4 linked regions of the Homo sapiens genome follow. The protein of the gene in region 1 interacts with the protein of each later gene in a biochemical or structural test. Each region holds a gene or a part of one and is shown in the gene's direction. Other genes may lie near its edges.

The links. Proteins that work in one complex are often made in the same cells at the same time.
Region 2: the proteins of ITSN1 (region 1) and DYSF interact in a surface display test, tested with the Homo sapiens proteins (one large-scale study listed by IntAct).
Region 3: the proteins of ITSN1 (region 1) and SGIP1 form a complex in vitro, tested with the Homo sapiens proteins (one study listed by BioGRID).
Region 4: the proteins of ITSN1 (region 1) and PTPN22 interact in a surface display test, tested with the Homo sapiens proteins (one large-scale study listed by IntAct).

The regions. Positions count from the first base shown.
Region 1 is NC_000021.9:33,896,249-33,901,370, forward strand, and holds the end of ITSN1 (intersectin-1), read left to right. Parts: 3' UTR 1-3,613; downstream 3,614-5,122. UniProt on the Homo sapiens protein: Adapter protein that provides a link between the endocytic membrane traffic and the actin assembly machinery. Acts as a guanine nucleotide exchange factor (GEF) for CDC42, and thereby stimulates actin nucleation mediated by WASL and the ARP2/3 complex.
Region 2 is NC_000002.12:71,468,543-71,473,211, forward strand, and holds part of DYSF (dysferlin), read left to right. Parts: intron 1-4,669. UniProt on the Homo sapiens protein: Key calcium ion sensor involved in the Ca(2+)-triggered synaptic vesicle-plasma membrane fusion.
Region 3 is NC_000001.11:66,731,997-66,736,665, forward strand, and holds part of SGIP1 (SH3-containing GRB2-like protein 3-interacting protein 1), read left to right. Parts: intron 1-1,751; coding exon 1,752-1,884; intron 1,885-4,669.
Region 4 is NC_000001.11:113,837,200-113,841,868, reverse strand, and holds part of PTPN22 (tyrosine-protein phosphatase non-receptor type 22), read left to right. Parts: intron 1-3,225; coding exon of another isoform or gene 3,226-3,246; exon of another isoform or gene 3,247-3,248; coding exon 3,249-3,325; intron 3,326-3,461; coding exon 3,462-4,279; intron 4,280-4,669. UniProt on the Homo sapiens protein: Acts as a negative regulator of T-cell receptor (TCR) signaling by direct dephosphorylation of the Src family kinases LCK and FYN, ITAMs of the TCRz/CD3 complex, as well as ZAP70, VAV, VCP and other key signaling molecules.

The DNA.
Region 1 (5,122 bases):
TCAGGATGGGCCACAGGGCGTCAAGCAGCTGTGAGCCTTTACCATTGAGCTCACTGCTTGGAAATAAAACCCTTCCTCTGGGCCTTGGGCATCCACTGGGAGCTTTTCTCCCCTTTCCTGGGAGGACAGCAAGCCTTTTCCAACCTTCTGCCTTCAAAGAGAAGCAGGGTCATAGAAGTGCTCAGTGTCCCTTCCCCAGTGGCTGGACACTTGCTCCTCCAGCCTTCACCCCCTGGAGAGAAGGGGAGTCTGCGGAGCCAGTGCCTCCCTGCCCAGCTGGGCCACACGATCTGGTCTGCGGGTGTCTGGGAGGAACCTGCTTCGGAGAGGCTGCGACCTCCCAGCTAGACTCTCCCCTTAGGATCCCATGTATGGGGATGGTAGGAGAGAAAAGATCCCTCTGTGTAAGTAGCCTCAAGTTCTAGAAGACCATGGCCCCGGGAGGCAGCTGACCATGAAGCTGGGCTTCCTGTTGTTGCTTTCTTTCACGAGCTTTTACTTTTCCTGGGCTGGACGCTCCAAAATGTTTGCAGTTCCATTTGCTTTTTGCAAGTAGGTCCCCATCTCCATATACATTGAGCAATAATCCTCACTATGTTTCCTGATTCTGTCTGGGATTATATTTGCTAAGTAAAAATGTTGACAGAAATTGCAAACTCATCTCACCTGGATTTGATTGAGTCACCTTGAATGACATAACAAATTATGGCTTTGTTTTCATGCGTCATGCAATCTTCCGGACTACGGGAAGTTCTGCAAGTGTTCTCCAGGGGCATTTCATTAATAGCGTGTCAGCATTAGTTTTAATGAATGAACATTTGAGGTACATTCTATAAATCAATATCCTTAAAATGTCATCTGCTAAACATTCACTGTGACAGAAAGTAGATATTTTAGCAAGATCTATGTTAATGCTACTTAATTTTAGACATGCATTTAAAGCCTACATGGCCAATAGCCCAAGTATCTTTGAACTGTGAAATCAACCTCAGATCTCATCTGCTGTAGCCCCGCAAGCCGGAGTCTGTGCCCTCCATGACCCTTCTTATCCCTTGGTGGCCCTGCATAGATAGGGGAGTTGGCCCCTGCCCACCCCGTGTTGTATTGCCTTAGCTCCATCAGCTTTGTACCCTCACACGTATAGGTGGTGAACTTATGTGTAAATACATGTGTACAGATGAGAAACTGCAACAAAAATGTCCTGTGGATGATAATCAGCTCAGTTTCCGGTTTTCTACATTCTGTGCTGTTTCCAGCTAAGAAAAAGGCGAACTCCCACTATATAAAGGGAAAAGGTTGTATTCATTTCATGTTCCTCATGAAATCTCTGCTGTATGTTTATGGAATGGCCATGACTAAATGTATATATGGTATGTAAGAGGCCATGCTGTTAAATGTTGCATAAACTAACACAGATTCTGTAGTCAAAAATATTTAACTTGTTATTGTAAAATGTGATTTGTCATTGAGAGATTATTTTTCTGTATGTATATGAGAGTATTTTAGGAATCTAATTTAAGTGCATAAAACTATAGAAAAAAATTTAAAACCTATTCCAAGAGTAGAAAATGCTTAATGAGATTACTTGGGTTCAACTCAACTAAATTTCTTATATTAAAAAAAAATTCCAAGTTGTATATGTTAGAAATCAAATGAGTCATTTTTTTTCCTGCAGGAAATATGATAAATTTCAGTGTAATGGATGGTGGCGTGATCAAATGAAAAGTATCCTGTAGCTATGACCTCGCATGGGACCTTGGTGTTGCATTAAAAATGGATTTTTGCAGATCACATATCTGAGAGGGTACTTGTGTCAGGAAGGATGAGAGGATAGGGAGCCTGTTTTTCATCAGATCCATGTGCCACGCAGGCTTCCTTGGGTTCTAGTGGATTTGTTAGGGATCTGGGGCTGACGCAGCTATCCCACTAGAGAGGCCACTCTCTGACTTCCAGGTCGCCCTTTCTACTTCTGTATCTGGATTGATTCAGTTTATCCCTAATTAGCGTTTGCGTTTTCCATGAAATTTCCTGATGCATCCTCACTGTCTTCAACTGTTGCATAGCCAGGTGGGTGGATGGATGGTTTAGGGTTTCTGAGTTAAGCCGTTTTGGGGCAGGCTTCTGGATGCCCATGTTTCCATGGAGACCCCAGGGGGAAGATGCCTTCCTCCCGTCTGCATTCCCAGAAAAGGATCAGAAGTCCAGGCTGCTTCTGGGGCACAGACTTTCTGTACTTGGCCACCAGAAGTGCCCCTTAGGCCACCTAAGGAGGATTCTGTGAAACTCAATGTCTAAACCCCTGAGAAAGGCATTCAGAAATGATTTCAGGAGGGGGCAACCCCAGGAGTCCAGCCTCCCCTGGCAGCCTGGAAATACTGCAGTAACAAAAAGAGCTGGTTTCTGGTGATCTGAATGCATTGTGTTTGGGGGTGACACCGCTGGTGGAAGGTTGAGGGCCTGTGGTCTGAAAAGACATCTGAAGAATGTGTTAGGTTTTCAACATTTCTTTGAACAGGCTGCGTGCATCTTAATGCTGTCAACCAGCAACTGGAGCCCCTTTTTTGAGAGGCCCGAACCAGTAAAGCTGCTGACTTCAGGAGTATGGGAAGCTGTGATTTCTGGAAGCTTCCTGGAATCTATTTAGGTGCATGAATAATCTGCAAATCACTTAGAGGCACTGTCCATGTGGTCCATAACTGGCTTTATTCCCAAAGATGGAGCTGTTCAGAGATTTCTTTGTTCAGGCGCAGCCTTGGAAGGCCACCTAAGGCCTGCCAGCAGAGGAGATGAGCTCTGGTCTACCAACCCCAAACAGGCCCTGACTCTCCTTCCTTAGAACGATGCCCTCTGGCTGGGGTGGCAAGAGGGCTGTGAGTGGAAACAAGTCAGCCAGTCAACTGTCCCTTGGGCCTTGGTTGTTTCAAAAAAGTCTGGGGACAAGAAAAGCTAGAACATGGGGCCCTCCCTTCCCAGGAGTGCTAGCGAACCCTCCCAGATAGCCTTTGCCTGTTTGGAAAAGAATGTAATCCATCAGAACGTGAGCTCCTTGTGCTTCCAGTGACAAGCGGGCCACAGTGCTGGTGGCATGTTGCTTCCCTCACAGCCCTGCCCAGGGGTAGGACCAGGCCCGCCCCTTGATGGATGTGCTGTTGATTGTAATATACTTCTGTTGCCAAATAATGGTACTGTTTAATTTTCCATAAAAGAGAGACTATATTGTCTGATATGTAATGTTAATGGAATTCTAAGAATTACTAGACACTATTATAAATTGTAGACTTACGTATTTGTCTAAAGGTTTGATGAAGCAGGGCCAAAACATTGTTTCTTCTTTTTTGTTTGAAAGAAGCTGAGGTTTGTTTTTGCTGTTTGAGTGTTCCTTTGGCAACTTATTATGTGTGAAATGTTAAATTTTACCGATTAAGATGATGGTAACTGAGACCTTTCTTTAAACCAGTAGCAACATCAGTACAAATTGCTCTTCCTGTGTATCTTGAACCTAAAAAGAACAATCTCTTCAAAAACAAAAACAAAAACAAAAAACAACTCTTTGGTCATTTTGACCTGTGTGGTTTAAATTCAAATAGTTCATGAATAAAAGGAGAAAAGCCAATCTGTTATAGTGGATTATTTTGGGTTCTTTCTGCTTCACTCTTTTCTGAGAGCACAGGAAGCTAACAGCCCTGCAAATGGTGTCTCTTCCTCTTCCCACAGATAAGATTGTAGCTGTGCAAGGAAAATTGTGCAGAAATAAACCTAGAAAACAAAACCAACCAACAACCCTTTCAGCTGTCCTGCGGCTTCAGATAAATGTTAGCTAACACCAAGCAGAAATAGATTTCTGTGTACGAAGTCTTTGTGAGAACAGGAGAAGTTTTGTGTTGTACAGCATAAGAAATTCTGAGGGTGGGGTTGAGAGGGCGGTGCAAAAAGCTGATTTTCTTATAAAGACATTCAGAAGGGTCGCTGAATTTCCAGGAAGAAGTTTCTAACACACGTAACTCCACGTGTTCAGCACTTGGGTGATCTATAATTCTGCGTTCCATAAAACCCAACGCTGAATTGTATTAGGTTGTTTCCTCCTGTTCTGGTTTTAAGGCCATTCCTACCTATTTCATCACTGATTTAACTGACTATAAATAAGTCCTTTAAATTCTCTAGCTGGCTTGGACACTAGTTGAATTGTGACATAGCACATTTTTAAAAAGTTGACCCTACAGCAGTATGTCTTTGCCTTTTTAAAACTAGTATGCCCCATTTTTGAAGAACATAAAATCGTATGCCCTTTTCTTGGTTGTTATTTGAAGTTTTAAAAATAAGTTAAGGCTGGATGTGGTGGCTCACACCTGTAATCCCAGTGCTTTGGGAGGCTGAGGCAGGAGGATTGCTTGCATCCAGAAGTTCAAGACCAGCCTGAGCAACATAGTGAGACCTTGTCTTTACAAAAAATAAATCAGCCAGGCATGGTGGCACATGCTCATGGTCCCGGGTATTTGGGAGGCTGAGGCAGGAGGATCTCTTGAGTCCAGGAGGCCAAGGCTGCAGTGAGCCATGATTGTGCCACTGCACTCCAGTCTGGGTGACAGAGTGAGACCCTGTCTTAAAAATAAAAAGTTAAATGCCATTAAAAACAAATGCAATAATTAACTTTCCCAACTATACCTAGTTCTCTCCAAGTCTGATGAGGGCCCCCTCACACAGACCAGAGAGTGGATGGAATCACTAGTACAAAACATGTAATTATTACCTATTTAACCACGGTTAGTAGCCAGCATAATCAAGGCAATACTTTTTATTCTCAAATATTTAGTTTTTCTTCTTGTTACAGAAGTAATACTTGTTAATGCAGAAAATTCAGCAAGGAAAGAAAAACACAAAGGAAATAAAATCACTTAATGGAGATGTTCTTCTACACAAAAATAAAGGTTTTGATGCACTTCATTTCTGTATTTTTTGTGTGTGTGTGCATTTTAAATACTCTTGTACTATTTATTTATTTATGAGACGGAGTCTTGCTCTTGTCACCCTGGCTGCGCTCGGCCTCTTGTACTATTTAATAGCTAATATGCATCGAAAATATCCCATATACAAGGGACTGTAAAACTTTCACCTTGATTTTAAA
Region 2 (4,669 bases), on another chromosome or scaffold:
CTCCCCCCAGATCTCTGTATTCCTTCTTTGTAATGCCTTACTATTTATTTGCACTGATGATCTCCTCGGAAAACAGAAATACCATACAATAGAATGTAACATCTCCAACCGTTTCAAGTCTATTTGTATTTCAAAGCCCAGGGCAATGCCACCTTCTCCAGGAGGACACCCTGGATCCCCCTGGCTCTCAAGAGTCTCTCCTCTCTGGATGACAAGCAGCAGCACCTTGCTAGGGATGCTAGCACCCTCGCCCTGACTGGCCTGTGCTCAGCTCCATGCTTAGGTGCCTTGAGAGCAGTGACCTGTCCTATTTGTTCATTGGTTTGTCCCAGTGCTGAGCACAAGTAGGTGCTCTCTAGTGTTTGTGCGCTTTCTGGCCCAGCCTCTAGCCATCCTCCAGGTGTGCCTGGGAGCTTCATTTAGTCTGGGACATGGTCCGCTCACTTGATTGTTCCTGAGAATCACTTGTAGAACGTGTTTGAGAAACAGATTCCAGAGTCCCCATCTGTAGAGGTTCCGATGCAGCAGGTCTGGAAGGTGACCTAAGAATCAGCACTTAACAAATACCCGATGCAGGTTATTTTGGAACCGCATCTTGGGAAAAATGGGTCTGAGATGTGATGGCAGGTGAAATTAATGCGCTCCCCATTGCGGGAGCATTCACTGGGGAGTTTGGGGCTGAGTTGATGCCTAAGGAGGGAAACCGTTAGAACCAGGTTCAGAACTTACAGAGCATGTAGGCTGGGGGGACTCAACTCTGGCTGCAGGTCAACATTGTGTGTGGGAGCTTCACCAAAGACCACTGCCAACCTCCCTGCCTGCCTTTTCTGAAGCCAGATCCCTTCCGGTGGGGCCCCAGGCATAGGTGTTGTTTCTGTCAAATTTCCAGGTGTTTTGAATGTGCAGTCAGGGTTGAGAACCACTGAGCCCAGCTCCTCATGGCACAGATGGGACAGTGGCCTGCTTGCAGAGAAGCCAGCCTGCACTGTGTGTTTGGCTCCTACAGGCAGCCTGAAATGTATGGGGCTGGGCTGGCCCCACTTTCCTTGCAGTTGTTCCCTGTCTCGGATGTAATTTCAGGACCTGCCTCCCAAAATAGACTATGAGCTCTGGGAGGCTGGACTCTGAGGGCAATTTTTTGGCTTCCCTGTCTAAGCACCTCTATTAATAGTAGAGGCTACTAATGAATACTTCTCATTCTTTTGTTTTTCTATTAATTAATTCATTAACTAAAACTACCATGAGTAACTGGGCCATAGTAGATATTTTTGACTGATTGTGTCAACGAGCAGCTTAATTTCCTATAGCATTTAATTGTCTGTACTTCTTTTCTGCCCTGCCCATTTTCCATTCCTTAATGTGATTATTTATATCCCTCTATTCATGCAGTTAGTTCATTGAACAAATATTTACTGAGTACCTACTACGTGCCTGGTGCTTTTCTAGGTGCTTGGATGCATACAAGAACAAAACCAGATCCCTACTGCTTTAAAGCTGAAACATCTTATTTCCTTGAAGGCCAGATCTGCTGCGTCCCCACTTGGTGAATTTCTGCCCTGTGTCATCAGCCAGGAACCCAGAAGTCATTACTGACACTTCCCTCTCTCTCATCCTGTCAGGGCGTCTCCTCCTCCAGCCTCCCCCTCCCACCTCTTCTCTTCTTGATCTCCTGGGGGTCTCTAGATTTGGGGCAGGAGTTGGGGGATCTTATAGAACTAGTTGGAGGTGGATTCCTGTCGTCAGGGAACACTCTTAACTCACCTATGTAGGGAAAGTGGGCTGAAGGCCCCGGACTCTCTGAACCTAGCTGTTTACATATTACAAATGACTTAAAATATTGAAAACAGCGGCCAGGCGTGGTGGCTCACGCCTGTAATCCCAGCAATTTGGGAGGCCAAGGCGGGTGGATCATGAGGTCAGGAGATCGAGACAATCCTGGCTAACATGGTGAAACCCTGTCTCTACTAAAAATACAAAAAAAATTAGCCGGGTGTGGTGGTGGGTGCCTGTAGTCCCAGCTACTCGGGAGGCTGAGGCAGGAGAATGGCATGAACCCAGGAGACGGAGGTTGCAGTGAGCCAAGATTGAGCCACTGCACTCCAGCCTGGGTGACAGAGTGAGACTCCATCTCAAAAAAAAAAAAAAAAAAAAGAAAAGAGCTTTCTCTTCTCTTCCTTCTTTCCTTCCTTCCTTCTTTCCTTCCTTCCTTCCTTCCTTCCTTCCTTCCTTCCTTCCTTCCTTCATTCCTTCCTTCTTTTTTTTTTTTGAAATGGACTTTCACTCTTATTACCCAGGCTGGAGTGCAATGGCACGTTGTCGGCTCATTGCAACCGCCGCCTCCCAGGTTCGAGTGATTCTCCTGCCTCAGCCTCCCGAGTAGCTGGGATTACAGGCACCTGCAACCATGCCTGGCTAATTTTTATTTTTATTTTTAGTAGAGATGGGGTTTCACCATGTTGCCCAGGCTGGTCTCAAACTCCTGACATCAGTCAATCCACCCACCTTGGCCTCCCAAAGTGCTTGGATTACAGGTGTCAGCCACCCCGCCTAGCCTGTTTTCTTTTTATAAACATAATATGTACTTGCTGTTAAAAATGACAAACTACAGAAAGGCCATGAGGCAAGAGTAAAAAATAGCCCCAAATCCTGCCACTTTGAATTAACTTGTTAACAATTTGACACATTTCCTCCAAGATTTTTTTTCTTAAAAATTTTAGTTATAAAATTTAACATACAAGGAAAGTGCAGAAGATATAAATATATGATTTAATACAGTAGTTCTCAACTGGGGGCAGTTTTTTCCTCAGATGACATTTGCCAATGTCTGGAGACATTTTGGGTTGTTGCCACAGGGGTTGGGGGCACAGGGTGTTTATCTACAGGGTAGAGGCTGAGGATGCTGCTAGACATTCCACAGTGCAAGGGGAGGTCCCCCACACCAACCACAGAGTGATTCAGCCCACATAGTAATCATGCCACGGTTGAGAATAAATATGTGTGTGAAGAGAATAACTATGTAATATCACCCAGGTCAAACAGGTCAAGAAATAGCACCTGGCCAGCCCCATTTCTCCACCAGAAGTAATCCCATCATAGATTTTTTTTTTCCCAAATGTTTGCACATTTGCTGAAAAATAAACCAGGGGGCCGGGTGTGGTGGCTCACGCCTGTAATCCCAGCACTTTGGGAGGCTGAGGTGGGCGGATTGCTTGAGGCCAGGAGTTCCAGGCCAGCCAACAGGGTGAAACCCTGTCTCTACTGAAAAATACAAAAATTAGCCAGGCATGGTGGTGTGTGCCTGTAATCCCAGCTACTTGAGGGGCAGAGGCACAAGAATCGCTTGAACCCAGGAGGTGGAGGCTGCAGTGAGCCGAGATCTCACCACTGCTCTCCAGCCTGGATGACAGAATGAGACTCAGTCTCAAAAACATCAATTAATTAATTAAAAAAAAATCCAGGGTCATTTTTTATGTCAGTAAGTATTCTTCTATAACACCTTTATAAATATCTGCGTAATATTTTCTTATATGGATGCACCATCATTAATTTACTCAACCCCCTACTGATGAATATTTAGGTTATATAAGTGTTTATATTTATATCCAGTGCTTAAATTATACAGTCACTGTGAGGCATATTCTGGTGACTACATCTTTGGCCACATATTTAATTATTTCCTTTGGGTAAATACCAGAAGATGAATTGCTATGTCAGAGGTTATAGACAGATTTAATGCGTTGCTGCATTTCCCAAATTGTTCTTGAAGTCTGTATCAACTTTATCCTCCTGTCAGCCAAGTATGAGGGCTTATTTTTCTAATAATCCTGCTAACACACAGCATTGTCCTGTAAATCTTTGACACTTTCTTTCTTTTTTTTCTTTTTGACAGAGTCTCATTCTGTCGCCCAGGCTGGAGTGGAGTGGCGCGATCTCGGCTCACTGCAAGCTCTGCCTCCCGGGTTCACGCCATTCTCCTGCCTCAGCCTCCCAAGTAGCTGGGACTACAGGCGTCCACCACCACGCCAGGCTAATTTTTTGTATTTTTAGTAGAGACGGGGTTTCACCATGTTAGCCAGGATGGTCTGGATCTCCTGACTTCGTGATCCACCCGCCTTGGCCTCCCAAAGTGCTGGGATTACAGGCGTGAGCCACCGCGCCAAGCCAACACTTTCTTAAGGTTCAAATAGTATTTGTGATACTTCATTGTTATCACCTATTCGTATTTATTCTTACTGAATTACTTTTTCATTTGCCCATGGTGGAGCATGTTTGTCTTTTTCTTCATTAGTTGCAAGTGCTCTTTATGTATTGAGAATGTTACCGTTTTTGTCATAGATGTTTCTAGTATCTTCTCCAGTTCTGTTTGTTTTTCTTTAATTGGCAAGTAAAAATTATATGTAAATATCTTCCCCAGTTCTAATGTAAATATCTTCCCCAGGCCTTCTGAGTTTAAAGACTACTCTTCTTGAAGTGCATTTCACCCTGGCTCCCTCCCTTTTTGGCCACTTCTGTGGTTCCAGCTAGGATTTAGGAAGGTGGGGTGGAGGGTGGTTGACGGGGAGAGGAGCAGTGCTCTGCTGATGATAGGGGAGACAGCTGCCCAGTTCTTGGGGTGTCCAGGCCTGAGAACACCATGGCAGGGCAGGTGTCAGAATGACCATCTACCTCT
Region 3 (4,669 bases), on another chromosome or scaffold:
AAGCATTTGATTGGCAAAGCTTTCTTGAATATTTATTAAAGCAGGTTCTCTAAGAAATTATCACAGACCTATGACAGCTTATTTTGCTATTAATCTCAGCAAATGTATTTCTTTAAAATAGCATTATATAATTGAGGGTTTCCCAGTTATTCAAATCTACTTAGTACAAATTAATGACATGTTGCTAGATATTAATTCTGAACCTCTATTTTGGCATGGTGTGAAAGTGTTATTTGTAGAACTGATATGGGCTGGAATCTGGCTGTTTCTTATTAGCTGCATGACCTTAAGCAAATTATTTAATTTCACTGACCCTCTGTTACTCTTACCTCCTGCCTGCTTGTATAGCAACAGCTCTGGGAGCTTGGGTAACTTAGATGCTTTTCAATTTAAAAAAACTCAGATAGCCCTTACCAGCATCCCTAGCTCAACTGAAAAGGGGCAAAGTCTTAAGGACCAGGTGTATTTTCCACCCCCTTCCTCCATTTCCAGGGCCAAAGAGCTTTGCCTCATCCTCAATAACTTTATATCCAGGGACAGCAAAACCACACTGGTCACACTGAGACTTGGCCACTCTTTCCTAACAGATCAGTGACAGTTTTAAAGCCCTGGTGTTTTTTACTCAGCTTTCTTGATTTATGAGACTTCTGGAGGCTGAATCATAGCAACTTACTTTTGACCTGTCTTTTCACTTTTTCACTGTATCAGCCTTCTCTCTTCTCAACCCCTAATTTTCTCTCTTTTTTTTTTAACAAGTTTGCTCATCTTTAAAAACAAAGACAATAATTCTTCCTTTGCAGGGTAGATTTTAATGAAATAGTTTATAATGCCTAGCATATAATAGGTGGTTAAGAAACTGTAACTACTGTTATTGCACTATATAGGATATTCTGAAAGTGAACTGTCAGCAAATGTGTGTGACAAGTAACTGAATCACTTGTGGCCTCAGCTTCCTCATTATACGGGAAATGAGTTATATGTTTGTACACTCTTGCCTGATTCTTTTTATCATTGAGATGAGCATTTGCAAGATAGATTGGGTAAGTGGTCTGTATACAGGCCTCTGAGCAAAGCTAAGACTCTCATAGGGATATAAAACTTCTTAGCTTATAGAGACTCTGCTCTTCTTCTGTATTATAACTACCAAAATTATCATTTAAACTCCAGGATCATCTTATAAGTGAAGTGAAATCTTTGATGATTTAAATGCTCATGGATGAAATATTATGAATGCTGAAAAGGCAGCATGGTAATTTTAGTATCACTCTTTTCTGCTTAGTTGGTGATAAAGACCATGTTTACATTTGGCCAAATATTTCACTGGATAATTTCTGAGAAACTACTGGTCAAAGTAATTCAAAAGTAAATAAACGTATTCAGTTCCTTAATTGCCTTAACTGACTAATTTAGACAAAGCTGGTTTCATAGAAAGGGATATTAAGTTTGAGTTAATAAATAATTCACTCTTTAAAGCTCCCAATTATCATCGCAATTAGTTAATATTACTGAGCACTCACTGAGATTGATAGCAACACAGTAGCTCCTCCTCGTGGATATTAATCTACCAACACCATAGCATTCAGAACTGTATTTGTATGAAAACCACACTACTGTTAATAGATTCATAATAATCTCTACAAATTGTCAAAAAATGGCTGTACATATCAGACGACAATTTGCTAAGATGCTTCGTGTAGGGTTTATATTTGTTTTAAGATGCTACTCAATCATTTTTCTTCCCAAATGAACAGTGATAATACACAAAATGATGCCAATACCAAGGAATTCTGGGTAAACATGCCAAATTTGATGACTCACCTAAAGAAAGTGTCTGAACAAAAACCCCAGGCTACATATTATAACGTTGACATGCTCAAATATCAGGTAAGCCTATTTACATGATCGGTATCTCTTCCACATGACATATTTGTTTTCTAAAGTACCTACTATTGAATAAAAGTAACTAAAGTAACACTTCTTTTAACAGTATTTAAAAGCTATAACTCATTTTTTTAAATGGAAACTTTAAAAGATAACTTGGGGACTACTGACAAAAATATTCATACATATTCTTATTAGTTTAAGCTTACAAGTAAAATATTTTATCACAAAATTAGAGAAATGTGCCACAAAAAAATGAAGTTGCAAAACATTATACTAATTAAGATTATAAGTTTATATTGATAAACAAGATGATTATAATTTTGTTAAGAACATTACTATACTAAAACCTCTTATTTTAAATGATTCAAGGTACACAATCTGCTTTTGTTTTTCTAGTAAGATAGTCCTATGAAAGAATTCTAATAAAATCTAACACTAAGAAATAGTTCAATAATAAAGGAATGTTTGATACTTACAATATATGAGAACTTTCTTTTTGTATCTAGAATTGCCCTTATCTCAAATTATTATTGATATACTAAATAAGCCTAATTCATACCAGGATCCTGATAGTGCCTGAGTCTCTCATTGGTTCCCAGCCACTTGACTGCCTAGATTTTTTTGGTTTTTTTTTTTTTTTTTGAGACAGAGTCTCACCCTATCACCCAGGCTGGAGTGCAGTGGCACAATCTTGGCTCACTGCAATGTCCACCTCCTGTGTTCAAGCGATTCTCCTGCCTCAGCCTCCTGAGTAGCTAGGAATACAGGCATGCACCACCAAGCCCTGCTAATTTTTTGTATTTTTAATAGAGACGGGATTTCACCCTGTTGGCTATGCTGGTCTGGAACTCCTGACCTCAGGTGATCCGCCCGCATCAGCCTCCTAAAGTGCTGGGATTACAGGCATGAGCCACCACACCAGCTGACTCCCTAGATTTTTTTAAACTTTTTTATTTTTTAAATTGACAGGTACAATTGTATGTCTGTATTAGGTACAACATGATATTTTGAATATATGTACGTTATGGAATGACTAAACTAACATACGTATTACCTCACATAGTTATTTTTGTGATGAGAACACTTTCCATTCACTTTAGCATTTTTCAGGAATACAGTATATGGTTATTACCTACAGTCACCACCTTATGCAATCAATCTCTTGAATTTATTCCTCTCATCTAACTGAAATTTTGTGTCTTTTGACCAACATCTCTCTAAACAAACCCCCACCCCACCCCACCACCACTACCTCAGCCTCTGGTAACCACCATTCTACTCTCTAATTCTATAAGATCAACTTTTATTTTTATGTTATTTTATTTTATTTTATTTTATTTTATTTAGTTTTTTGAGATGAAGTCTCCCTCTGTTGCCCAAGCTGGAGTGCAGTGGCACGATCTCGGCTAATAGCAACATCCACATCCTGGGTTCAAGCGATCCTCCTGCCTCAGCCTCCCAAGTAGCTGGGATTACAGGCATGCACCATCATCCTGGCTAATTTTTGTATTTTCGATAGAGACGGGGTTTCACCATGTTGGCCAGGCTGGTCTTGAACTCCCAGCCTCAGATGATCCCCGTTCCTTGGCCTCCCAAAGTGCCACTGTGCCCAGCCAAGATCAACTTTTAAATATTCCACATAAGAGTGAGATCGTGTGGGCCGGGCGCGGTGGCTCACGCCTGTAATCCCAGCACTTTGGGAGGCCGAGGCGGGTGGATCATGAGGTCAGGAGATCGAGACCATCCTGGCTAACAAGGTGAAACCCCGTCTCTACTAAAAATACAAAAAATTAGCCGGGCGCGGTGGCGGGCGCCTGTAGTCCCAGCTACTCGGGAGGCTGAGGCGGGAGAATGGCGTGAACCCGGGAGGCGGAGCTTGCAGTGAGCTGAGATTGCGCCACTGCAGTCCGCAGTCCGGCCTGGGCGACAGAGCGAGACTCCGTCTCAAAAAAAAAAAAAAAAAAAAAAAAAAAAAGAGTGAGATCGTGTGGTATTGGTCTTTCTGTGCCTGGCTCATTTCATTTACCACGTTTTTAATGCATTATAATTTTTTATTAAATATGTTCAGATTATTTTTCTTCAAATGAAGGAAGTTGTACTTTAATAAAAATCAGGACATCTCAAACTTGACTGTATTTCTCAATCAAATGCTGGTTCTGAATTGATGCTAAAAAGAAATATATGTGTATACATATTTAAATAATATAAATATTTATTTATAATATTTACATATACAACCTAGATACATATAAAACCTATACAATCTATAACATATAAAATAACACATTATATTCATAAATATAAATATTTATACAAATATTTTAAATATAAATATTTATACAAATATTTTAAATATAAATATTTATACAAATATTTTAAATATAAATATTTATACAAATAGTTTAAAATATTATATAAAATATGCAAATATATAAATATGATATATGTGAATATAATACGATATATTATATGTGAATATAATATGATATATGTGAATATAATATATAATATATGTGAATATATTATATGTGAATATAATATATTGCGTATTATATGTGAATATAATATATTGCGTATTATATGTGAATATAATATATTGCGTATTATATGTGAATATAATATATTGCGTATTATATGTGAATATAATATATTGCGTATTATATGTGAATATAATATATTGCGTATTATATGTGAATATAATATATTGCGTATTATATGTGAATATAATATATTGCGTATTATATGTGAATATAATATATTGCGTATTATATGTAAATATAGGTAG
Region 4 (4,669 bases), on another chromosome or scaffold:
CACTTTGGGAGGCCGAGGCGGGCAGATCACTTGAGGTCAGGAGTTTGAGATCAGCCTGGCCAACATGGTGAAATCCCGTCTCTCCTACAAAGACAAAAATTAGCCGGGTGTGGTGGCGTGTGCCTGTAATCCCAGGTACTTGGGAGGCTAATGCAGGAGAATTGCTGGACCCCAGGAGGCAGAGGCTGCAGTGAGCCGAGATCGCACCACTGCACTCTAGCCTGGGTGACAGAGTAAGACTCTGTCCCCCTCCACCAAAAAAAAAAAAAAAAGAGTTGTTTACATGTTGTTGAGTTTTAGGAGTTCTCTATGTATTCTGGATATTGATCCCTTATCAGATATGTGATTTGCAAATACCGTCTTCCATTCAGTCAATGGGTTGCCTTTTTGCCTTTGTGTCCTTTGGTGTGTAAAAGTCTTAATCTCAATGAAGTCCAATTTTCCTATTATTCTTTTGTTGTTTGTGCCTTTGGTGTCCTATCCAAGAAATCGTTGCCAAATCCAATGTCATGAAGCTTGCCCATTTTCTTATAAGAGTTTTACATTTTACTTCTTATGTTTAGGTATTTGATCAATTTTTGAGTTAATTTCTGTATCATAAGATAAGGGTCCAACTTCATTCTCTCTCTTTTTTTTTTTCCTTTGAGATGGAGTTTCGTTCTTGCTGCCCAGGGTGGAGTGCAATGGCGTGATCTTGGCTCACTGGAACCTCCACCTCCCTGGTTCAAGTGATTCTCCGGCCTCAGCCTCTTGAGTAGCTGGGATTACAGGCATGCGCCACCATGCCTGGCTAATTTTGTATTTTTAGTAGAGACGGGGTTTCTCCATGTTGGTCAGGCTGGTCTCAAACTCCTGACCTCAGGTGATCCACCCGCCTCAGCCTCCCAAAGTGCTGGGATTACAGGCATGAGCCACCGCACCCAGCCTCAACTTCATTCTTTTGCATGTGTATATTCAGTTTTTCCCAGAATCATTTATTGAAAACACTCTCCTTTCTCCATTGAATTTTCTTGGCACTTTTGTCAAAAATCAATTGCCCACCATATGTAAATGTTTTTTTCAAAGCTCTTCTATTCCATTGGTCTTTAGTCTATACTATGTCAGTACCACACTGTTTTAATTACTGTAGCTCTGTTGCAATTTTTGAAATCAGGTAGTGTGTCATTCAACTTTGCTCTTCTTTTTCAAGATTGTTTTGACTGTTCAGTGCCCCTTGAAATTCCATGAATTTTAGTCTGTTTTTTAAACAAATTATGTAAAAATGCCATTGGGTTTTTGATAAGAATTGCATTGCACTTGTAGATCACTTTGAATGTCTATTTATTTATATCTTATTTAATTTCTTTCAGCAAAGCTTTGTAGTTTTCAGTATACAAGTCTTTTGCCTCCTTGGTTAAATCTATTCCTAAGTATTTTATTCTTTTTGATGCCATTATAAATATAACTGTTTCCTTAATGTTCTTTTCAGATTGTTCATTGCTAATGTATAGAAATGCAACTCGTTTTATGTGTTCATTTTACATCCTGCAACTTTGAATTTGTTTATTAGCTCTAGCAGATTTTTTGTGGAATCCCATATATAAAATCATGTCATCTGAGACTAGAGATAATTTTACTTCCTTTTTTTCCAATTTTTTTTTTTTTTTTGAGATGGAATTAAGTTAGGGTCTTATTCTGTCGCCCAGGCTGGAATGCAGTGGTACGATCTCGGCTCACTTCAACCTCCGCCTCCTGGGCTCAAGCAAGTCTCCTGCTTCAGCCTCCCGAATAGGTGGGATTACAGGTGTGCACCACATGCCCGGCTAATTTTTATATTTTTAATAGAGACGGGCTTTCACCATGTTGGCCAGGCTGGTTTCAAACTCCTGACCTCAAGGGATCCACTCACCTTGGCCTCCCAAAGTGCTGGGATTACAGGCGTGAGCCACTGTGCGCAGCCTTTTTTTCCAATTTGAATGCTTTTTTTTTTCTTGCCTAAGAACAAAATTAATTAAAAAAATTACTTTGGCTAGAACTTTAGTACTATGTTGAATAGAAGTGGTAAAAGTTGGCATTCTTGTCTTGTTTTTGATCTTAGGGGAAAGTTTAAGTCTTTCATGTATGAATATGATGTTAGTTATGGGTTTTCATATATGGCCTCTATCATGTTGAGAACATTTCCTTATATTCCTATTTTGTTAAGTGATTTTAACATGAATTTTGTCAAACGCTTTTTCTGCATCAACTGAGATGTTCAAAATGGATTTTAACATCTCTGAAATGAAGATATATTTTATAATCAATTATATTTTAAGATTCTATGAACCACAATAACATATTTCATAATATGATAATTGCTATAAAAAATAAGGATTGGGAAGCTGAGGTGAGAGGAGGACTTGAACCCAGGAGGTCAACACCGCAGTGAGCCATGTTTGTGCCACTGCACTCCAGCCTGGGTAACAGAATAAGACCCTAACTTAATTCAAAAAAAAAAAAAAAGATTGAGGCCAGGCACTGTGGTACACACCTGTAGTGTCCCAGCTACTTGGGAGGCTGAGGTAGGAGGACTGCTTGAGCCCAGAAGTTTGAGGCCAGACTGGGCAATACAGCGAGGCCCTGTCTCTTAAAAAAGAAGAAGATTGAGCATGGCTGGACAGGGGAAGAAATGTGATTTTAGGTTGGGTGGTCAGGGAAGGTTTCCTTATGCAGATGACAGTTAAGCAGAGATCTAATTACTTAGAAGGAGCCAGCCATGCAAAATTTGGAGCAAAAATATATTAATCAGGGGGAATAGTAAGTGTAAAAGCCTTGACTTGGAAATAAGTTTGGCATGCTAAAGTAATGGCAAGAAAACCAGTATACCTAGAGCATAGTGAGGAGGAAAAGAGTAGAACAAGATGAAATAGGTCCAGAGACCTAATAAGTACCTGTAAAGGGCTGAGATGCTGAAATTTCTAAAGGCAGAGTGTTTTTGAGACTAAAGTTACCCACCAAAGAACATTTTTAAAACTCCCACATTTGAAAAGATGATGATATACACAAATCCTTTCTAGTTTCTATAATACTATTAATCCTTTATTCTGGCCATCTCAGTATATGAACGAGTTCTTGCTGAGTTCAATATTTTGGAAGCTAATCTAACTCTTTCATGAATTATTTTAAATCTTTTTATTTCCTGAAAAATTACTTTTCAGCCTTCTAAATATTAAAATATCTTATTGACATTGCTTCACTGAAAACCAGCCTCTGACTTATTTCTTTTAAAGAGTCAAGCAAAGCATTGTATTCCTGAGAAAAATCACACTCTCCAAGCAGACTCTTATTCTCCTAATTTACCAAAAAGGTGAGTACAATTTTATATATCTAAATGTTGACTAATTGTGTCTGGGAGATGAATCTCATGCTTATACATCATTGTGATGCTAGGAAGCGGCCTGTTTGGGGTATGGTGTCATCATTACGCTTTCTTTTTGTTTTAGTACCACAAAAGCAGCAAAAATGATGAACCAACAAAGGACAAAAATGGAAATCAAAGAATCTTCTTCCTTTGACTTTAGGACTTCTGAAATAAGTGCAAAAGAAGAGCTAGTTTTGCACCCTGCTAAATCAAGCACTTCTTTTGACTTTCTGGAGCTAAATTACAGTTTTGACAAAAATGCTGACACAACCATGAAATGGCAGACAAAGGCATTTCCAATAGTTGGGGAGCCTCTTCAGAAGCATCAAAGTTTGGATTTGGGCTCTCTTTTGTTTGAGGGATGTTCTAATTCTAAACCTGTAAATGCAGCAGGAAGATATTTTAATTCAAAGGTGCCAATAACACGGACCAAATCAACTCCTTTTGAATTGATACAGCAGAGAGAAACCAAGGAGGTGGACAGCAAGGAAAACTTTTCTTATTTGGAATCTCAACCACATGATTCTTGTTTTGTAGAGATGCAGGCTCAAAAAGTAATGCATGTTTCTTCAGCAGAACTGAATTATTCACTGCCATATGACTCTAAACACCAAATACGTAATGCCTCTAATGTAAAGCACCATGACTCTAGTGCTCTTGGTGTATATTCTTACATACCTTTAGTGGAAAATCCTTATTTTTCATCATGGCCTCCAAGTGGTACCAGTTCTAAGATGTCTCTTGATTTACCTGAGAAGCAAGATGGAACTGTTTTTCCTTCTTCTCTGTTGCCAACATCCTCTACATCCCTCTTCTCTTATTACAATTCACATGATTCTTTATCACTGAATTCTCCAACCAATATTTCCTCACTATTGAACCAGGAGTCAGCTGTACTAGGTAAGTTATTTTTTAAAGTTTGCATAGAATTTTAGATTTCATTTTGTTTCTATAGAATAGTTGGTTTCTTCTCCTCTTCCCTCTTCTCCTCTGCTTCTTCTCTTTCTTTCTTTTTTCTCTTTTTTTTCTTTTTTTTTTTTGAGATGGAGTCTCGCTCTGTCACCCAGGCTGGAGTGCAGTGGTGCAATCTTGGCTCAATGCAACTTCCGCCTCCAGAGTTCAAGCAATTCTCCTGCCTCAGCCTCCTGAGTAGCTGGGATTACAGGCGCGCGCCACCACGCCCGGCTAATTTTTGTATTTTTAGCAGAGATGGAGTTTCACCATGTTGGCCAGGATGGTCTTGATCTCTTGACTTCGTGATCTGCCTGCCTCGGCCTCCCAAAGTGCTGA